Regions from separate parts of the Homo sapiens genome. Here region 1 is linked to region 2. A link means that fine-mapping ties the variant in region 2 to the plasma level of a protein whose gene starts in the linked region. Region 2 holds a variant in brackets. A gene starts in the other region. All regions are shown on their forward strands.

Evidence for each region. A credible set is the group of variants that fine-mapping cannot tell apart. PIP is the chance, under the fine-mapping model, that this variant and not a neighbour inherited with it causes the effect. Protein levels are from antibody-based Olink assays in UK Biobank. Linkage for the fine-mapping came from a reference panel and not from the study's own genotypes, which makes the PIPs less certain.
Region 1: it holds the start of IL13RA1, and the variant in region 2 is the best candidate, but not a certain one, in a credible set for the plasma level of the IL13RA1 protein (UK Biobank, PIP 0.75).

What each region holds. Positions count from the first base shown.
Region 1 is chrX:118,722,921-118,732,309 of GRCh38, forward strand. IL13RA1 (interleukin 13 receptor subunit alpha 1) reads left to right here and starts at 4,686. Exons shown (of 11, transcript NM_001560.3): 1 at 4,686-4,806. The coding sequence starts at 4,719. RefSeq lists a silencer at 4,295-4,724.
Region 2 is chr19:787,422-796,829 of GRCh38, forward strand. No RefSeq gene overlaps it. Among named protein-coding and RNA genes, the nearest start is that of PTBP1, 5.3 kb to the right of the region's middle. RefSeq lists enhancers at 1-325, 326-894, 9,150-9,408 and cis regulatory regions at 3,777-4,847, 5,145-5,294. The variant A/G (reference allele first, on the strand shown) is at 8,036.

The sequences.
Region 1 (9,389 bases), not on the chromosome of region 2:
AGGGTCCTGTCAGTGGCCTCTTGTGCAAGCAACACTCCCTTGAGTGAACTCCACTAAAACTGTAGAAGAAAACCACCTGCTGAAGAGCAAGGACCTTTAATTCAATTAAACCCAAACATTGAGAATGAGTTATGAGCCACTAACCATGTTCCATTCATCTTTATATTCTCTGTGGTGCCAGAGGATGCCTTTCTCCAAGCTCCCCCGACTCAATCCACTCAGAATCTAAGTAAGAGTAGAGCTCTTGCTGTACATACATGGCTCCAAGACAAGGCCCCTGGGGATTGTTCCTTCCAATCAGATTACCACCACTAAGCTCCTCCTAGGTAGAAAACCTGGAGTCACCCTGGACAGTCTGACCTCCAGGAGCTTGAATCCAGTGGCAGAAATAGACATGCACACAAACCTCTGTGTGATTTGATATGATAGAGGAACGTGTCTGGTGCTATGAGCACACACACAGGAGGGAGCAAAGAATTTTGCATTTGGGAGTTAGAGAAGCCCCTAAAAAATGTGACACTTGAGAAATGGAAAAGCATTTTAGATAAAGGGAACAGCAAGATAAAAGGTTTGCAGTGAGAAAATATCACAGGTGACAAACAAGAACCGGGCAAGTCATAAGTGAGGAAACGCTGACTAGGCCAGGGAGCAATAGGGAGCCCTAGGGCATGTGCAGACAGGAAGTACATGCCCTGTTAACAAGGTGGCAGCCCATCTGACATCTGCTGACGGTTTCTACACTGAAACAGGTCCAATATTACCAGGACTTTTGATTTATTAAGAGAAGCTGGAAATCTGGGGCCTTAGGCAAAATCTCCTGACTTAAAAAAAACACTTTGGCATCTAGATCCCCATGAATTCCAACATGATATGGACCAAACACAATTGCTCACAAGGGAGATTCAGCCTGAAGGTGGCCAGTCAGCCACCTGGAACCTGGAAGCTTGGCTGGAAGTGAAGCTAGGAAGAGTGTGGGGAATCTAACCTGAAGAGGCAAGCCTGCAGGCAGAGGAGTTGAGACTGCCTTTTGTGGCATTTGATGAAGGGAGGGGTGTCACTTAAGCTTAAGCTGAGGAGTGACATGGACAGATTGCTCATTGGGAAGATCTGTCTTGTAAAGGGTAGACCCTCATGGCCAGTTTGAAGACTGTTTCTGGAATGGTAATAAAGTCCTGAAATAGAACCATAGAGGCGAAACTGGGTGGTCGGGGGAGGAATAGATCTGAGAGATGTTTTACCATCTAATCAGTGACTGCAGGACTAGACAGTGGATGGGGAACTGGGGGTACGAGATACAGGAAAGGGAGTTGTCAAGAGTACATACTTTTAGCATTCATCTCTAATTTTGGCCAGGCATGGGGGACAGTGGGTGGGTGGGGACCAAATACAAAAGACAACAAAGAGTATTCTAGCTTAGGATCTCTCTCACCTTTGGCGCTGTTGTCATCTTGAGTAGAGTAAGTCTTTGTTGTGGGGGCGGTCGTGTGCATTGTATTAACAGCAGCATCCCCAGCCTCTACTCACTGCATTCCAGAAGCATGCCCCCGCTTCAGTCATGACAACCAAAAATATCTCTCCATATTGCCGAATGTCCCCTGGGATGTAAAATTGCCCCTGGTTGGGGGCCACTGATCCAGAATCGGGAGGGAAATTCCCTGTTTTCAACTTCTCCTTTTTCTTTGTTTTGCAGTGGTGTGAGGTTTTGCTTAGAGGACTCTTTGTGAGATTTTTGTCTAAGGGACCAGCACTTTTAGCTAAGCCCTTGGAATATGCTGGTGTCTGTGTCCCTTTTGGACTCAGGAAGGTGTCTCTAAATGGATGGAAGGACACCTGACTTTGGAAAGAGGGACATCATTCTTTCCTGCCAGACATTTTCTTGCATATGCCCTTTTCAGCCTCCAGTTACAGAAATGGACGAAGACTTAGTGAGAAGGGCAAAGGTCAAAACAGTTGAGTGGAGTGGCCTAGGTACACAGGGCAGCGCAGAACTCCAGCCACCCCGGGCCAAAGTGAAAGAAAGGCCACTGGTAGTCTCGCACCCAAGTCATCAGGACTCTAAGGGTTAAACTTGATGTTGACTCATCATGATTTTGATTTACACAAAGCCAAACTGAAAGCTCCTTGTCTACTGCAGTTCCTGGAAAGCCTTCTATCTGTCTTCATTCTTCCTGCAGACCAGGGCAGTGGCCTGATTCAATCCAAGACGCTCTTCGAATCACACTACACGGAGATTACAAATACAAGTTTTATGTTGAAGAAACAGCATTCCTGACTCTTTCCACCCCCTTCCAAAAATTTGAAAAATCGTTGCATGATGTTCAGGGTCGGGAAGAAAGGAAAGTAACAATATAGTCTTAAGGCCAGCAGGCCGGAACTATCTTGGTGAAAAGAAATCAGGTCTCTCCCCTCTCCACACTGCCGTTTGTTTTTTTTCCTCACGATGTTCAGATTCTCAGGGCTTTTCTGGAAGCTCATGACAAGCTGCAATCCCTATTTTTCTAATCATTTGCTACCATTACTGTTTTATTAAGCGCTTGGTCAATCTATGCCAAGCAGTGCCCATGATGGCACTCAGCCAGTCCCCAGGGGCTCCTGTTCCAACTAAAGACTCCTTAAAAGGCAGATGACATAACCATTTTGGAAACGTTATTATAAACTTATTGTATAATGTTTATAGCAAATGTCAACAAGTGTATATGTCCGTGGTGGTGGAGGAAAGGCCTTGGGATACACAGTGGCTGACCTATTTGTGGGAGGGATTTAGAAATAATGATACTATCTCTCAGTTCTACAGGCCTTGATACTTTACAAACTGTTTTCATAAACATTATTTTGTTCGATAACACATGCAAGCCAGGATTTATTTTTTTTTTTTTTGAGAACGGGGTCTCACTCTGTTACAGACCCAGGCTGGTTTTGAACTCCTGGGCTCAGGTGATCCTTCCACCTCAGCCTCCAGAATAGCTGGGATTACAGGTGCATGCCACCATGCCTGGATTCTGGAATTTATTCTGAACCGTTAGCCAAAAGAATCAACATCCTGAGATTCAGCACAGGCAGGCCCTCCTCCTGGAAGCTTCCCTTGCTCCTTCCCTCCCAAAAGGTACCCTTTTTGTATCCCATAATTCCTTGTTCTTGCCCTTATCATTGCCCCTCAGACTGACTGCAGCTTTCTGTTAGCAGAGCTTGCTTTTGGTGAGTGTCTTCAACAGTTCCTGGAACAATTTCATAAATATTTATTGAGTTTGAGAGCCTTAATTCCAAGAGTGGAACCTTTGTTGTGAATAGGTTAAACAACCCTGTGCCCTTTGGGTGGGGTCTAGACTAGGTATATTATCAGCATTTTTATTGCTATACTTTTTGTAACTGTTTTCAGGTATATGCATTGGCTTAATTCGGCCAAAATACACCTCATTATGGGTCTCATCATCCACCTAGACATGATTCTTTTTTGGGAGAAGGTGATAGAATAATGTCCCCCTCCCATGATTCCATATCGTGATCCCCAACACCTGTGAATATGTTAACTTACATAGCAAAAATGACTTTTCAGTTATGATTAAATCAAGGATTTTGAGATGGGGAGATTATTATGAATTATCTGGTGGACCTAATCTAATCACAAGGGTATTTATAAGGGAAAAGGGGAAGTAAGAGGGTCAGAGTCAGATACGACAAGGGAAGCAGAGGTCTGAGTAGTTCCGCAACAAGCCAAGGAATGTGGGTAGCCTCTAGAAGCTGGAAAAGTCAAAGACACAGATTCTCCCCTAGAATATCCAGAAGGAATACATCTCTGCCCACACCTTGATTTAAGCTCAGTGTCACTTCTGACCTCCAGAACTGTAATAAAATAAAACTGTTAAATCACTAAATTTGTGGTCATTTTTGACAGCAGCAACAGGAAACGCCTAAGGACTCTTGTTTTCCTTCCTCCCAGCCTCACTGACCCTCATAGGCGCCCAAGTATCAATGTGTATTCTTCCGATTCACCTCCCATCCCTTTGAAAAATATGTAGAAAGTTTGTCGTGTGCTTTAAAAAATGCACGTATGGTATCCTCCCTCATGTTTGGAATGTTCCTTTTAAAATCAACATTATGTATTGCCAGCTTTCAAATATGCCCTTTGTCCTTTTCACAAAGCACAGTACTGCCAGTGTCCCCAACTCCACCCAGTGAAGTAGGGCTGGTATTACTAACCCTGGAGTCAGCGCTAGCAAACAAGGGCTCAGAGGTCAAGGGCTGGAAGCCAGGTCTCCAGACTCCCAGGCCAAGGCTCTTTTCCGCAGATGACTCTGTCCTGGTGTCCAGCAGGGCACAGCCCCTAGCACCTCCGAGGCCCCGCAAGTGTGCTGGCAGCGGCGACGCCGGCTCCGCCACGCGGAGGGAGGAGGCCCAGGCAGCGCCCGGAGTGGGCGGCGACGTGGTGGAAGAAGTTTTGTTCGGTCAGAGACCGGACGCGGGAGCTGCGGGTGGGCCAGGTGTCCAGCCTTGGGAGCCGTAGGAGCCGCCAGAGCCGCCAGAGCCGCCGGCGCCCCGCCCCGCCTCCTCCGGCCGCTCTCGCCGGCTCAGGTTACCTGAGGCCGGTGGGCGGGGCGGCCCTTCCCGTCTGCGCCGGCCCCCAGCCTCCAGGGCGGCGGAGCCGGGAAGTGGAAGAGGGAGCGAAGGAGGCGGGGACTGCCAAGGCTCCAGCCCGGCCGGGCTCCGAGGCGAGAGGCTGCATGGAGTGGCCGGCGCGGCTCTGCGGGCTGTGGGCGCTGCTGCTCTGCGCCGGCGGCGGGGGCGGGGGCGGGGGCGCCGCGCCTACGGGTGAGTGCGACCCTCGGGGCCCGAGGGGCGGCCGGAGGGCTGAGGGCGGTGAGGGTCACGGCTGAAAGGCCCCGGAGGTCAACGCCGGGCGGAGGGCCGAAGCTGGGGTGGGTGCTGGGGGCTGCCCTCGCGAGGCCCCGCGCTCGGCGGCTGCGGCTTCCCGCGCGGGATCTCTGGGGCCCGGTACTGGGGCCGGTTCGAGGTGGGACCCGGGAGCTGCGGGGTTTTCCCGAACTCCGGGTGCGGCGGAGGTGGCGGCAGCGAAGTAAGAGGGCTGCGACTTGTAGTGGGAAGAGCCCAGGAGGCTGGCGTCCAGGCGTGCGGGGGCGGGGGGCCCGAAACATGCCCACGGCGTCAGAGGGCCGTGGGTCAGCGCCCGGAATGTCGCCTGTGAGCCCGGGAGGAAATGAGGCGCCAGAGCCGGCGGGGACCACGACCGAAGTCCAGGCGAGCTGAGAACGCGCCGGGGCTCTTTGCCCGAGGCCGCGCCAATCCTCACTGTCTAAGGGTGGCTCTTGCGAGTGGAAGTTGAAGGGAACCTCTAAACATCTCAGTCCTTGTTGAAAAAGGACGTGACGCTCATGACCTCCTCTGGCGTCGAAGAAATCCTTTGGGAAATCCAGAATAGCATCCCGGCAGATGCTCCCCCCACCCCACTCTCTTTAATAAACCTTATATTTTAGGGTAATTGTAGATTTATGGAAAAGTTGCAAAGATACTTCAGAGAGTTGTGTATATCCCTCACCCTGTTTGGTAACTTCTAGTTAATCAACCTGGCAGTTGTGAAAAATTGGGAGTTAATGACTTCCTTAGGAGCAGCTCCTGGAAGGAATGGCCTTCTGGACGTTTTTGGTGACAATGAAAGCCCCAAACTGTATAGGTTTTATTATCACATTGACACAAACACTTATATATGCTTATTGCATTTTTACCAATGTGCTTTGAAATCCAAGTTGAAATGTTGATTAGGAAACCTTAATGCCCTCTATGGATTCAGTCAATAAAATACATGCTGCCAGGCAGTGTTTAGGGGCTGAGGATGCAGCAGTGAGCAAAACAGATGAGGTGCCTGCCCTCAGACATATCGGGGGGTGGGGGTAAAATATATGATATGTCTGAGGGTGTTAAGTAGAGAAAAACAGAGCAGGTGGGAAGGGGTTTGCCATTGTAAAAAGGGTGGATCGAGAAGAAAACAAATGTTGCTGAAAGGTGGCATTTGAGTAGAGACCTGAGGGAGACTTGAAGCTTGTCAGTCAATAATTATTCAGGTGTCTGCCTTATTTAGTACTGAGTCAGGCCCTCTAGGTTGACTTAGAACCTGAGAGTGTATAGCAAAATTCTTGCCCCAAAAGGGCCTCTAGTTTAGTTGGGTACACCTGATTTCCGTAATCATATGGGGACATTGCAGTCCAGAGAAGGGAAGGAACTTGTCTAAAGTTACCCGTCTCATTAGTCTCCTGATTTTCACAGTGCCACTCCAGCACCCTCCCTCCTACAGACTCACTCCCACACACACCTGAAACAACAGCTGGCCATCTAGAGAATACTGGCAACTCCCAACTTCATCAGTCCTGTCACAATGGTTTGTCGTTAGCTTGCTTATTTAGAAAACAAACTTCTTTCCCCATTAAAAGTATTGATAGAATTGCATTGAGGTATGGTGGGAAAAAATTAGATGTTTCCAGTGAGACTTGAGTTTTAGTGGTTCTGATATTTACCACCTGTGGGACTCTGGGCTGGTCATTTCCTCTCTTTTGTGCTGCAGTTAGTTTTCTCATCTGTGAAATGAGGAGGTTGAACTGCATAAATTCTAAGAGCTCCTCCAGCTCTAATCCTCAGAGTGTTTATAAAAGTGATTAGATTACTAGCTTAGTTTAACCTGTCCCACTCAATGGCCCACATTGTGGCATGTCTTAATTATAACTAGCATGTATATAGCATTTATGCCCAGCAGTTTTCTAGCTGCTTTACTTGTACTATTTCATTTAATCTTTACCAATAATATAACTTGTAGGTGCTGTTATTAGTCCCATTTTGTACACGAAAAAGTTGAGGCACAGTGCGACCAAGACCCTTGCCCAAATTCGCATACCTGGCAAAGTGGAAGAGCTAGGTTTCCAACCCTGGCAGCCTGATTCCAGAGGCCATGCCCTTAACCACTGTACTCATTGCTTCTGCCCAGCAGAAAAGACGAGAGTCCTTAGCTGGACACCTCCCAGGGTAGCAGGGCAGGACGGCTTGGGACCCACGAAAGTATGTGCAAGCCATTTGTTAAGAAGCTAATGATACTATATTAGGCCGGGTGCAGTGGCTCATGCCTGTAATCCCAGCACTTTAGGAGACTGAGGCAGATGGATCACTTGAGGCCAGGAGTTTGAGCCTGGCCAACATGGCAAAACCCCGTCTACTAAAAATACAAAAATTAGCCGAGTGTGGGATTACATGCCTGTAATCCCAGCTACTCAGGAAGCTGAGGCATGAGACTCATTTGATCCTGGGAGGCAGAGGTTGCAGTGAGGGAAGATCAGGCCACTGCACTTCAGCCTGGGCGACAGAGCAAGACTGTCTCAAAACAAAAAAAGAAGCGAATGATACTACATTGGAGACTGGCTTTATAGTGGCTGGGCTGTGTGGTCCAAACAACTAGTACTATAGGCATTCAAAAGAGAAAAAGCTGACGGTTGGTAGTGTTATGGAAGAGGTAAAACTTGAGCTAGATCTTCTGGATGACTGGGATTTGAGTAGGTGGAGAATTTATTCCAGGTGGGGGCAATAGCAGGAGCAGAGACCCAGAAATGAGGGCAAGAGTGCTCCTTTGTGGTCAAGAAGGAACCTGGCTTGGCAGGAGAGTGCATTGGTAAAGTCAATCCAGGCAGAATAGCTTGATTTGCCCTTGAAAGCTCTGAGTCCGGCACAGCATGGGAAAAATAACACAGAAGGAGGAAGCAAGCAGGGAGACTTCACTGGGTAGGGGAGCCCCTGGAGTGTGAAGCTACATAAGAATCTATGGTTGCAGGTCTCCACTAGAAAAATGTGCTGCGAACCCTTCCTGTCCAGGACCATGACTTACTGGTATCTTCCCACCTGGTGGGGCACAACAGAGCATATTTGCATGATTGGGGTAACTAAGAAAGATGTTGGAAGAAAAAAACGAACAGGAGTTGATGCCTGAGTGGATGTAAGGGAAGGGACAGATGACTCATATATGACTCTTGTGATTTCCTTAACTTTTCCCAAAATGTGCATGCCTCTGCTAGCTGCTGTGATTGGACAGGCGAGAGCAAAAGCTATAAGCTAAGCAAAATGCCTTCTTATGAAATAGTAGATTGTGTTAACTCTTAATTTAAATAGGATGTTGTGCTAGATGACTGTACAGACTTGGGATTTGAGGTTTAGATACAGACATACTTGGGTCCCTTCCTACTCCCTTTTCTGAAGTCAGTGGTGCAATCCCCAAGACATGGTTGAAATTAGGTGCCTAAGGGAAGCTTATCAGGTAGAAGGGATACTTGTTCTGTCTCAAAGGCCAGGGACACATATCAATTCAACAGAAAACCAAAGCAACCCTGGCCAGGCACAGTGGTTCACACCTGTAATCCCAGCACTTTGGGAGGCCGAGGTGGGTGGATCACTTGAGGTCAGGAGTTCGAGACCAGCCTGGCCAACATGGCGAAACCCAGTCTCTACTAAAAATACAAAAATTAGCCAGGCGTGGCAGTGCACACCTGTAATCCCAACTACTCGGAAGGCTGAGGCAGGAGAATCGCTTGAACCCAGGAGGCAGAGTTTGCAGTGAGCTAAGATCACACCAGCGCACTCCAGCCTGGGTAACAGAGCGAGACTCCGTCTCCAAAAAAAAAAAAAAAAAGCAACTCTTTAGAATTGTTTTGTCTTAAAGAAATAAAGCAGATAGCTAACACATAGCACTTGCTGCCTGTGGGCACTATTCTAAGCACATTGCTTGTATTAACTCATTTAATCCTCATAATAACCCTTTGCAAGAGGTTACTATTATTATCCTCATATTAGAGATGAGAAAACTGAGAAATAGAGAGGTTAAGTAATTTGCCTGCTGGCAAGTAGTAGAGGTGGGATATAAACTCAGGCAGTCAGGCTCCAGAGTCTGTGCTCTTAAACACTACACTATGTTGAAGTTATACACGAAGAGCTGTTAGAGACCTTTACAAGTAGTATAATCATCACTTAATCATATATATGTCTAGGCATGTTGTATACACACACAGTTCACATGTATTTGTATATATTTAAACATTTGGAGATTAAAGTTTCAGTGCCTGTGTTTTTTTCAATTTTTTATTATAAAATACACATAAAATTTACCATCTTAATCATTTTTAAGTACACAGTTCAGTGTTACGAAATACATTCATAATGCTGTGCAACCATCATCACCATCCATCCCCATAACTCTTTTTATCTTGTAAAACTGAAACTCTGTACCCATTAAACAATAACTCCTCATTTTCCCCTGCCCCTAGCCCCTGGCAAACACCATTCCACTTTCTATCTCTATGATTTTGACTACTCTAAGTATCTCATATGAATGTAATGATATACTATTT
Region 2 (9,408 bases):
TCCCGGACTCAAGCCATCTGCCCATGCCGGCCTCCCAGTGTGCTGGGATTACAGGAGGAAGCCACTGTGACCAGCCTGAAAGTGTTCATTTTTAAATTTTTAATAGAGATGGGGTCTCACTATGTCACCCAGGCTGGTCCGAAACTCCTGGGCTCAAACCATCCGCCCACCTCGGCCTCCCAAAGTGCTGGGATCACAGGTGGGAGCCACGCGCCCGGCCCCAAAGCCCTCCTTGCACAAGCACCTGAGCCGCCATGGCCCACAGGCCCATCAAAACCAGAGCAAACTGGTACCTGTGATACAGCCTCCACTCCAGCCCCAGGGCCCAGCCCCAGGCCACCCGAGCCGGCTGTGGGTGACCTGAGACCAAGTGTCGTTTCCTGCTATAAACTATTGATGCCTGAGCAGTCACCTCCAGGAGCTCCGGGCTTGGCTACGGTGTCCTGGGTTCCCTGTAATGAAGCCCGGGGCAGCTGCGGCCTGGAGGGCGTCTGCTCCGCCTCCATCCTGGGCCCGCCTGGGGCTCTTTTCCTTCTAGGCCTGGTTCCCTCCAAAATTAGCTTCCTATCGGGATCCCACATCCCCTCACAATGGAGGCCTGACCTCTGGGGAGACACAATGTCAGGGTCACTGTGAGGTTTTTATTTATGTACTTTTATTTTTATTTATTTGATACCGAGTCTCACTGTGTTGTCCAGGCTGGACTGCATTAGTGTGATCCTGGCTCACTGCAACCTCTGCCTCTCGGGCTCAAGCGATTCTCCTGCCTCAGCCTCCCAAGTAGCTGGGATTACAGGCACCCACCACCACGCCCGGGTAATTTTTTTGTATTTTTAGTAGAGACGGGGTTTCACCGTGTTCGCCAGGATGGTCTCGGTCTCCTGACCTCGTGATCTGCCCGCCTCAGCCTCCCAAAGTGCTGGGATGACAGGCGTGAACCACCGCGCCCGGCCTCGATTTACTCATTTTTTTTGAGAGAGAGAGAGAGTCTCACTCTGTCACCCAGGCTGGAGTGCAGTGGCGTGATCTCAGCTCACTGCAACCTCCGCCTCTTGGGTTCAAATAATAATTCTCCTGCCTCAGCCTCCCGAGTAGCTGGGATTACATGTGTATGCTACCACACCCAGCTAATTTTTATATCTTTGGTAGAGACAGGCTTTTGCCCTGTTGGCCAGGCTGGTCTCGAACTCCTGACCTCAGGGCATCCACCCGCCTCAGTCACCCAACGTGCTGGGATCACAGGCGTGAGCCACCGCGCCTGGCCTGACTTTATTATTGTTTTACAAAGAGCAGACCTTCCACCTGCCATGGATAAAACGCCGAGTTCTAGAGGACACTGGAGACAGAGTGTTCCCCAGAACAAGGCCTGGGCGCAGCAGCCTGCAGGGCTGGGGTCTCCACTCCCGGGGGAGCGTGCAGCGGGGCCTGCCATCCCTCTGTGCCCCCGCCCCACCCCCACTCTGCAGGCCGCTGACCCTGTGGTCGGGCTGGTGAGCAGATGGCTGCTGGATCACTGACAGCCCGGCTCACGTTCCCTCTCCCTATGGAGACATCTTCCTTTTAATAAATTTTGCAAGGCCGTGGAGGGGGGCCAGCGCTCTGGCCCACGTCTGTCTCCCATCCCCATCACCACACGAGGCCCCAGCACGCCTGGCTGGCCTAAGTCCCCGCAGGATGAATGGGCTTCCGGGGCCTGCTGGGACCAGGTAAGCAGGCTGTGCGGCTTAAAACAACACAAATACACTCTCGTCTCTGGAGGCCGGAAGTCTGAAGTGAAGGTGTGCAAGGTGCCAGGCGAGTACCCTCCCGGCCTCTTCCAGCTCCTGGTGCCGACAGCCACCTCTGACCCTCCTGGACTTGCGGCCGCTTCCCTCCCAATTCTGCCTCTGCTGCCCCACGGCGGTCTCCTCTGCATCTGTGTCCAAATTTCCCTTGTCTCCCGAAGTCGCCTGTCACTGCGGTGGTGCCCGCCCTAATGATCTCATCCTAACTAATTACATCTGCAGAAACCCTATTTCCACATAAGGTCCCATTTGTAGGTGCCTGGGGTTCACGCAAAGACAGATCTTTGAGGGAACTCAATTCACCCCACCCCGGGGAGTTTGCCTTTGTGGCCGGCCCTTCCCCCTCAGATCAAATTCTGCCTCCTCAGCGAGGCCTTCCTGACCCTCCCGGGCCCTTCCTGCCTTTCTCTCTGGCTGCGGCTGTTTCCTGCGGGGCTGGCTGCAGCTCCCGGCGGCGCCCTGTCCTGTACCTGTTTCATGTCCATCGTCGGCAACCCCTGGCTTCTAACACAGCTCATTGCCCGCAGGACCTCCCAGCAGGAGCAGGGACCCAGTAGGCCCTGCGTCTCCGTCCGAACCACAAGCTGCTGTGGGTGGTCACTTGACAGAAAGACCCCTGCCCCCCCTTCCTTATTTGTTTATTTGCTTTTTCTGTTGCTTTAGAGACTGGATTTTGCCCTGTCATCCAGGCTGGAGTGCAGTGGCGAAATCTCGGTTCACTGCAGCCTCCATCTCCTGGGCTCTGGTGAGACTACGGCCTTAGCCTCCTGAATAGCTGAGACCACAGGCGTGCACCACCACGCCCAGCTGATTCTTTGACTTTTGTTTATACAGGGTTTTGCCATGTTGCCCAGGGTGGTTTCAAAGTCCTGGCCTCAAGCAATCCTCGTGCCTCGCCCTCCCGAAGTGATGGGATTATAGGCATGAACAACTACCCACTTCACTCCATCCTTTCCTTTTTTTTTTTTTTTGAGACAGAGTCTTACTCTGTCACCAGGCTGGAGTGCAATGGTGCGATCTCAGCTCACTGCAACCTCCGCCTCCCAGGTTCAAGCGATTCTCCTGCCTCAGCCTCCCGAGTAGCTGGGATTACAGGCATGCACCACCACACCTGGCTAATTTTGTATTTTTAGTAGAGAAAGGGTTTCACCATGTTGGTCAGGCTGGTCTTGAACTCCCGACCTCAGGTGATCCACCCACCTCAGCCTCCCAAACTGCTGGGATTACAGGCATGAGCCACCACACCCGGCCGAGACAGGGTTTTCAGGCGATCTGCCTGCCTCGGGCTCCCGAAGTGCTAGGATTACAGGCGTGAGCCACTGGGCCTGGCTTTATTTAATTTTTTGAGATGGGATCTCACTCTGTGGCCCAGGATGGAGTGCAGTGGTGGGATCCCAGCTAACTACAGCCTTGAACTCCTGGCCTCAAGGGATCCTCCCGCCTGGGTTTCCCAAAGGGCTGGGAATGACAGGTGTGAGCCCCCACCCCCCTGGCCTGGATATTTCATAGAAATGGGATCACACGGGGCCAGGCGCGGTGGCTCACGCCTGTCATCCTAGCACTTTGGGAGGCCGAGGCGGGCGGATCACCTGAGGTCAGGAGTTTGAGACCAGCCTGGCCAACATGGTGAAACCCCATCTCTACTAAAAATACAAAAATTAGCTGGGCTTGGTGGTGGGTGCCTGCAATCTCAGCTCCTTGGGACTCTGAGGCAGGAGAATTGATTGAACCAGGAGGCAGAGGTTGCAGTGAACTGAGATCGTGCCATTGCACTCCAGCCTGGGCAGCAAGAGCCAAACTCTGTCTCGAAAAAATAAAATAAATGGGATCACACGCTGTGTGTCCTTCTGTGTCTGGCGTCTCTCACGGAGCGTGACGTCCTTAAGGTGCATCCGCGCTGTGGCCTGGGTCAGAGCCTGGATCCTTTTCACGCTGAGTTGTGTTCCGCGGTGGACGGCCGGCACTGGGTTGGTCTTTTCTTCCACTAACGGGAATTTGGGCTGTTTCCACATGTGGCCTCCGTGAATAACACTACGATGAACGTTCATGTACGCGTTTCTGTGTGGACTTGTGTTTCCCCTTCTCTCAGGGGCATGAATAGGAGGAGAATTGCGGGGTTCCTGAGGGCCGGCCCCCAGTGCTGGCACATCCCCAAGCCAAGCCCCACCCCTCTTTTTTTTTTTTGAGACAGAGTCTTGCTCCGTCACCCATGCTAGAGTGCAATGGCCCCATCTCGGCTCACTGCAACCTCCGCCTCCTGAGTTCAAGCAATTCTCCTGCCTCAGTCTCCCGAGGAGCTGAGGTTACAGGCACCCACCACCATGCCCAGATAATTTTTGTTTTTTTAGTGGGAGACGGGGTTTCCCCATGTTGGCCAGGCTGATCTTGAACTCCTGATCTCAGGGATCCACGCACCTCAGCACCCTCTTTGGAAGTTCCTAGCAAGTTCTCTGCCTGAGTTCAGACCCACAGGGCCTCTTAGGGGACGGGGGAGGGTCAGGGCCCAGCTCTAGCTGAACTCCCCCGGGGGGAGGGGGGAGGGGGGAGGCTCAGGACCCAGCTCTAGGGGGGATTGAGGAGGATCAGGGCCCAGCTCTAGCTGAACTCCCCTGGGGGTAGGGAGGAGGGTCAGGGCCCAGCTCCAGCTGAACTCCCCTGGGTGGGGTGGGGAAAGAGGGTCAGGCTGGGGAGGGGAGCACAGAATGGCGGGGTGCCAGGCCTGGGGGAGAGGCGGATGGGGTGGGGAAGGATGGGTCTGGGCAGATAACGCTGTGGCCTTTTCCTGTTGGCCTGAGGGCCCAGGGTGGGGGTGGGGAGAGGCTGGTCTCCCTGAGGTCTGGGCATAGGGAGGTGTCCTGGGATGAGAAGACTCTTGAGAAGTGACTTTGATAATTCGGGGGCAGATCCTTGGGCCCACCACCCCTTGCAGGGACAGGGGTCCTTCTTGGGGTGGGGGATGAACAGAGACTGGAGAGGGTGGGGGAGAAAGGAGTTGAGGGGCTAATTTACAGGACCTCTCAGGCCGGGTGTGGCAGCTCACACCTGTCATCCCAGCACACTGGGCAGCTGAGGCAGGAGGACCCCTTGAGCCCAGGAGTTTGAGACCAGCCTGGGTAACACGGTGAGATTCTGTGTCTACAAAACATTTTTTAAAATGAGCCAGGCGTGGTGGAACTACTTGCTTATAGCCCCAGCTACCGAGAGGCTGAGGCGGGAGGATCACCTGAGCTGGGGAGGTTGGGGCTGTGGGGAGCCGAGACTGTGCCTCTGCACTCCAGCCTGGGCAACAGAGTGAGACCCTGCCTCAAAAAAATAAATAAACAAAAAATAAATAAAGCCCCCATTCCCTTTAGGATCTCTACTTCCTATACCAACCCACTGTCCCAGCTTGGAGGGGCGGGACCAGCCTCGAGCCGCAGTTGATTCCCAGAGCACAGAGCACAGGACGGAAGTGGTTCTGCATGGGGTATAGTGAGGCCAGGGAATAGCAATGCATTCCTGTCCGTGAGTCCTGGCCATCAGGCCTTGGGGTGGCCTCACCGAACCCCCACTCCAAGCTCCGTTCAACAGAAATCCAGGAAATGGGCCGGAGAGGCTGGGAGACCACCCAGGAGACCAGCCCGAGGCCGCGCCCTGGATCCCTGAGCCCTCACTTTTGTAATTAAGATAATAAACCTGTGCTGGCTGTGCGGGCACACACCTGTCATCCCAGCACTTTGGGAGACCAAGGCGGGCAGATCACCTGAGGTCAGGAGTTCGAGACCAGCCTGGCCAACACAGTGAAACCCCATCTCTACTAAAAATACAAAAATTAGGCTGGGTGTGGTGGCTCACAGGTGGATTACAGGGTGGCCTGTAATCCCAGCACTTTGGGAGGCCAAGGAGGGCAGATCACAAGGTCAAGAGATCGAGACCATCCTGGCCAACATGCTGAAACCCCGTCTCTATTAAAAGTATAAAAATTAGCTGGGCATGGTGGTGGGCGCCTGTAGTCCCAGCTACTCGGGAGGCTGAGGCAGGAGACTCGCTTGAACCCAGGAGGCGGAGGTTGCAGTGAGCTGAGATCACGCCATTGCACTCCAGCCTGGGCGACAGAGCGAGACGCCGTCTCAGAAAAAGAAAAAAATAAATCAAATAAAAAAATAAGAATAAAAATACAAAAATTAGCTAGGCGTGGTGGCAGGCACCTGTAATCCCAACTACTCAGGAGGCTGACGCAGAAGAATCACTTGAACCCGGGAGGCAGAGGTTGCAGTGAGCCAAGATTGCGCCACTGTACTCCAGCCTGGGCAATAGAGTGAGGTTCCATCCCCCCCAAAAAAAAAACAAAAAAAAAGGAAAAGGAAAAATAAATCTATGGAACTGCTCATGGGGAGGAGGGACGGCCTGGCCCTGCCACTCATGTTGACGAAGAAGTAAACTGAGGCACGGCCCTTCCCTCCCCCATCAGAACTGAAAGGTGTCTGAGGCCCCAGCAGGCCCTCTGCATGAGATTCGGTGGCTCTGAGGGCCTCAGATGTCCTCACTCCCCCCCCCGTTTCTCCTGCCAGGCTCAGAGTATCATTTTCAAAATGGTAACCAGCAAACCAACGTGATTCTCGCACAAAGGCAAGGTGAGCCTGTTCCTCGCTCACCCTGAATCATTCATGAAGGAGGCAGCTGGCCTGCGGGCTGGGATGGGAGACAGGAGAGGAGAAAAGACAGAGGCTGGGCCCTGCTCGCTAAATAAATCAGGTGCCCACGGGAGCCCCTGGGCGTCTTCCCGCGCTGGCGTTCTGCATATGACAGCTGACCTGTAAATTGCTGGGCCCTCAGCCATGGTTACTGTCAGGCCAGCCCAGGAAGGACACTGGTTTCAGGTGACCTGGGTGAGGTGGAGGCGGTGGGGGGGGTTCCTGGGACCAGGCCGCCATTGCAAAAACAAACGGCCTGCTTGTACCTGCTATCGCCCTCTAAGCTTCAGGTGGTGGGTGGGGCTGAGGGGCTGAGAGGTGGCCCCAAAGAAAGACAACCACATCCTAAACCCTGGAACCCGTGAACAAGGCTTCATTTGGAACACCAGTCTTTGAAGGTACCATTAAGTGTCTTGAGATGAGATCATCCTGGAGTCTGCAGGTAGACCCTAAATTCCGCGACATACATTTTATTTTTTATTTTTACTTTTTTTTTTGAGATAGCGTGTCACTCTGTTGCCCAGGCTGGAGTACAGTGGCGTAATCTAGGCTCACTGCAACCTCCGCCTCCCGCGTTCAAGTGATTCTCCCGCCTCAGTCTCCCGAGTAGCTGGGATTACAGGAGCAAACCACCACGCCCGGCAAATTTTTGTATTTTTAGTGGAAACGGGCTTTCACCATGTTGGCCAGGATAGTCTCAGGCTCTTCACCTTGTGATCCGCCTGCCTCGGCCTTCCAAAGTGCTGGGATGACAGGTGTTTATTTTCGTTTTTGTTTTTTAGAGACAGAGTTTCACTCCTGTTGCCCAGGCTGGAGTGCAATGGCGCAATCTCGGCTCACTGCAACCTCCGCCTCCCGGGTTCAAGTGATTCTCTTGCCTCAGCCTCCCAAGGAGCTGGGATTATAGGGCATGCACCACCACGCCTGGCTAATTTTTGTATTTTTGGTGGAGAGGAGGTTTCTCCATGTTGGCCAGGCTGGTCTCGAACTCTGACCTCAGGTGATCCACTCACCTCGGCCTGCCAGAGTGCTGGGATTACAGGTGTGAGCCATTGCACCCGGCCAGACACTGTCTTAAAAAAATAAAAATAAAAAAAGGTACTGGACAGGTGGCTGGTCATGTGGGGCTTGCGGGGTAAGGGATGGCCTTGGGTTTATACTTTGAGCAAGACAGGAGGCCTGGCGGGGCCACGATCAGAAGTGGGTTTTAACACGATTCCGAAGGGTTAGACTGGTGCTTGGAACCTGGTGGTCTCTACTGCTGCCAGCTGCCACTCAGACCCCCGGCCGCCCCTGCCTGTCTGCTTTCAGGGCGGGGCCCATCCCAGGCACTCCGCGAACAGACAGAAGCGGCTGGTTCTGGTGGTGTGAGGATGGGGGTCTCCAGGGGAGCAAATCCACAGTAACACACTGGGCTTCTCCCAGATCCACCGGACATTCCTGATGAGTGACCCTGGCTGCAGATGGCTCTTGGTGAGTCTCCGTTGACCGGGTGGTTCGGGCCAAAGGACCTTGCCGTGCGATGCCTCCATGGAGCTCGGCGGCCACCCCTAATCCGGGCTGGAATCCTCTGGCACC[A/G]GACGCCCGGCGGGGCTCCAAGGCTCCTGGGCCCACGCCAGGCCCCGGCCTGAAACGCAGCACTGCTGGAATAAAACACGCCAGAGAAGCAGGGCGCTAGGCTCGCCTGGATTTGGGGAAACGAGAATTGTCATGTCTTCTCCCTCCGTAGGTTGGTGTTAATGAAAAACCCCCTTTTCAGCATGGACTAAATCCCGCTAATTCTATTTAGGGAGCAGTGTCTACTCCGGGCCGGGAACTGCTCCGGTTTCCAACCGCAGCCTCCCGTGAGGGTCCCAGTGTGGAGGGCCGGGGTCATCCCCTCACTCTGGGATGGCTCCCAACCCGCTGACCTGGCCTCCCCGTCAGGCACCCTCACAGCTCTGTCAGACTCTTCATGTGATCAGCGCTCCTGGGAACATTAGTTTAGGGTGTTTTCTGCTGCTGGGATGGTGGCCCGGGAGGGACCCTCCTGGTGACCCTGCTGGGCCTGGCCCTCAGTTTCCCCAGCCGTAGGCTGGCAGCCTCGAACTGTACGAGCTCCAGGCCACAGTTTCCCCAGCTGTAGGTCAGTGGGCCAGGGACTGTAGGGGGCTCGGGCCTCAGTTTCCCCAGCTGTAGGCGGGTGGCTTGGGCCTCAGTTTCCCCACCTGTAGGCGGGCGGCCTTGGATTGTATGGAGCCCGGGCCTCAGTTTCTCCAGCTGTAGGCGGATGGCCGTGGACTGTGTGTGGCCTGGGCCTCAGTTTCCCCCGCTGTAGGCAGATGGCCGTGGACTGTGTGTGGCTTTGGCCTCAGTTTCCCCAGCTGTAGGCGGATGGCCGTGGACTGTGTGTGGCCCGGACCTCAGCTTCCCCAGCTTTAGGCGGTTGGCCGCGGACTGTGCAAAGTCCAGGCCTCAGTTTCCCCAGCTGTAAGCGGGCGGCCGCCCACTGTACAAGGTCCAGGCCTCAGTTTCCCCAGCTGTAGGTGAGAGGCCGCGGACTGTACAAGGTCCAGGCCTCAGTTTCCCCAGCTGTAGGCGGGCGGCCAAGGACTGCAAGGTCCAGGCCTCAGTTTCCCCACCTGTAGGCGGGCGGCCGCGGACTGTACAAGGTCCAGGCCTCAGTTTCCCCAGCTGTAGGTGAGAGGCCGCGGACTGTACAAGGTCCAGGCCTCAGTTTCCCCAGCTGTAGGCGGGCGGCCGCCTACTGTATAAGGTCCAGGCCTCAGTTTCCCCAGCTGTAGGCGGGCGGCCGCGGACTGTACAAGGTCCAGGCCTCAGTTTTCCCAGCTGTAGGCAGCCGGCCGCGGACTGTGCGGGGCCCGGACCTCAGTTTCCCTATCTCCGCAGTCGGGATTCGCTGTTCCGGGGCGAACAAAGAACGGTCGGGGGTGACCCCGGATCATGGCGCG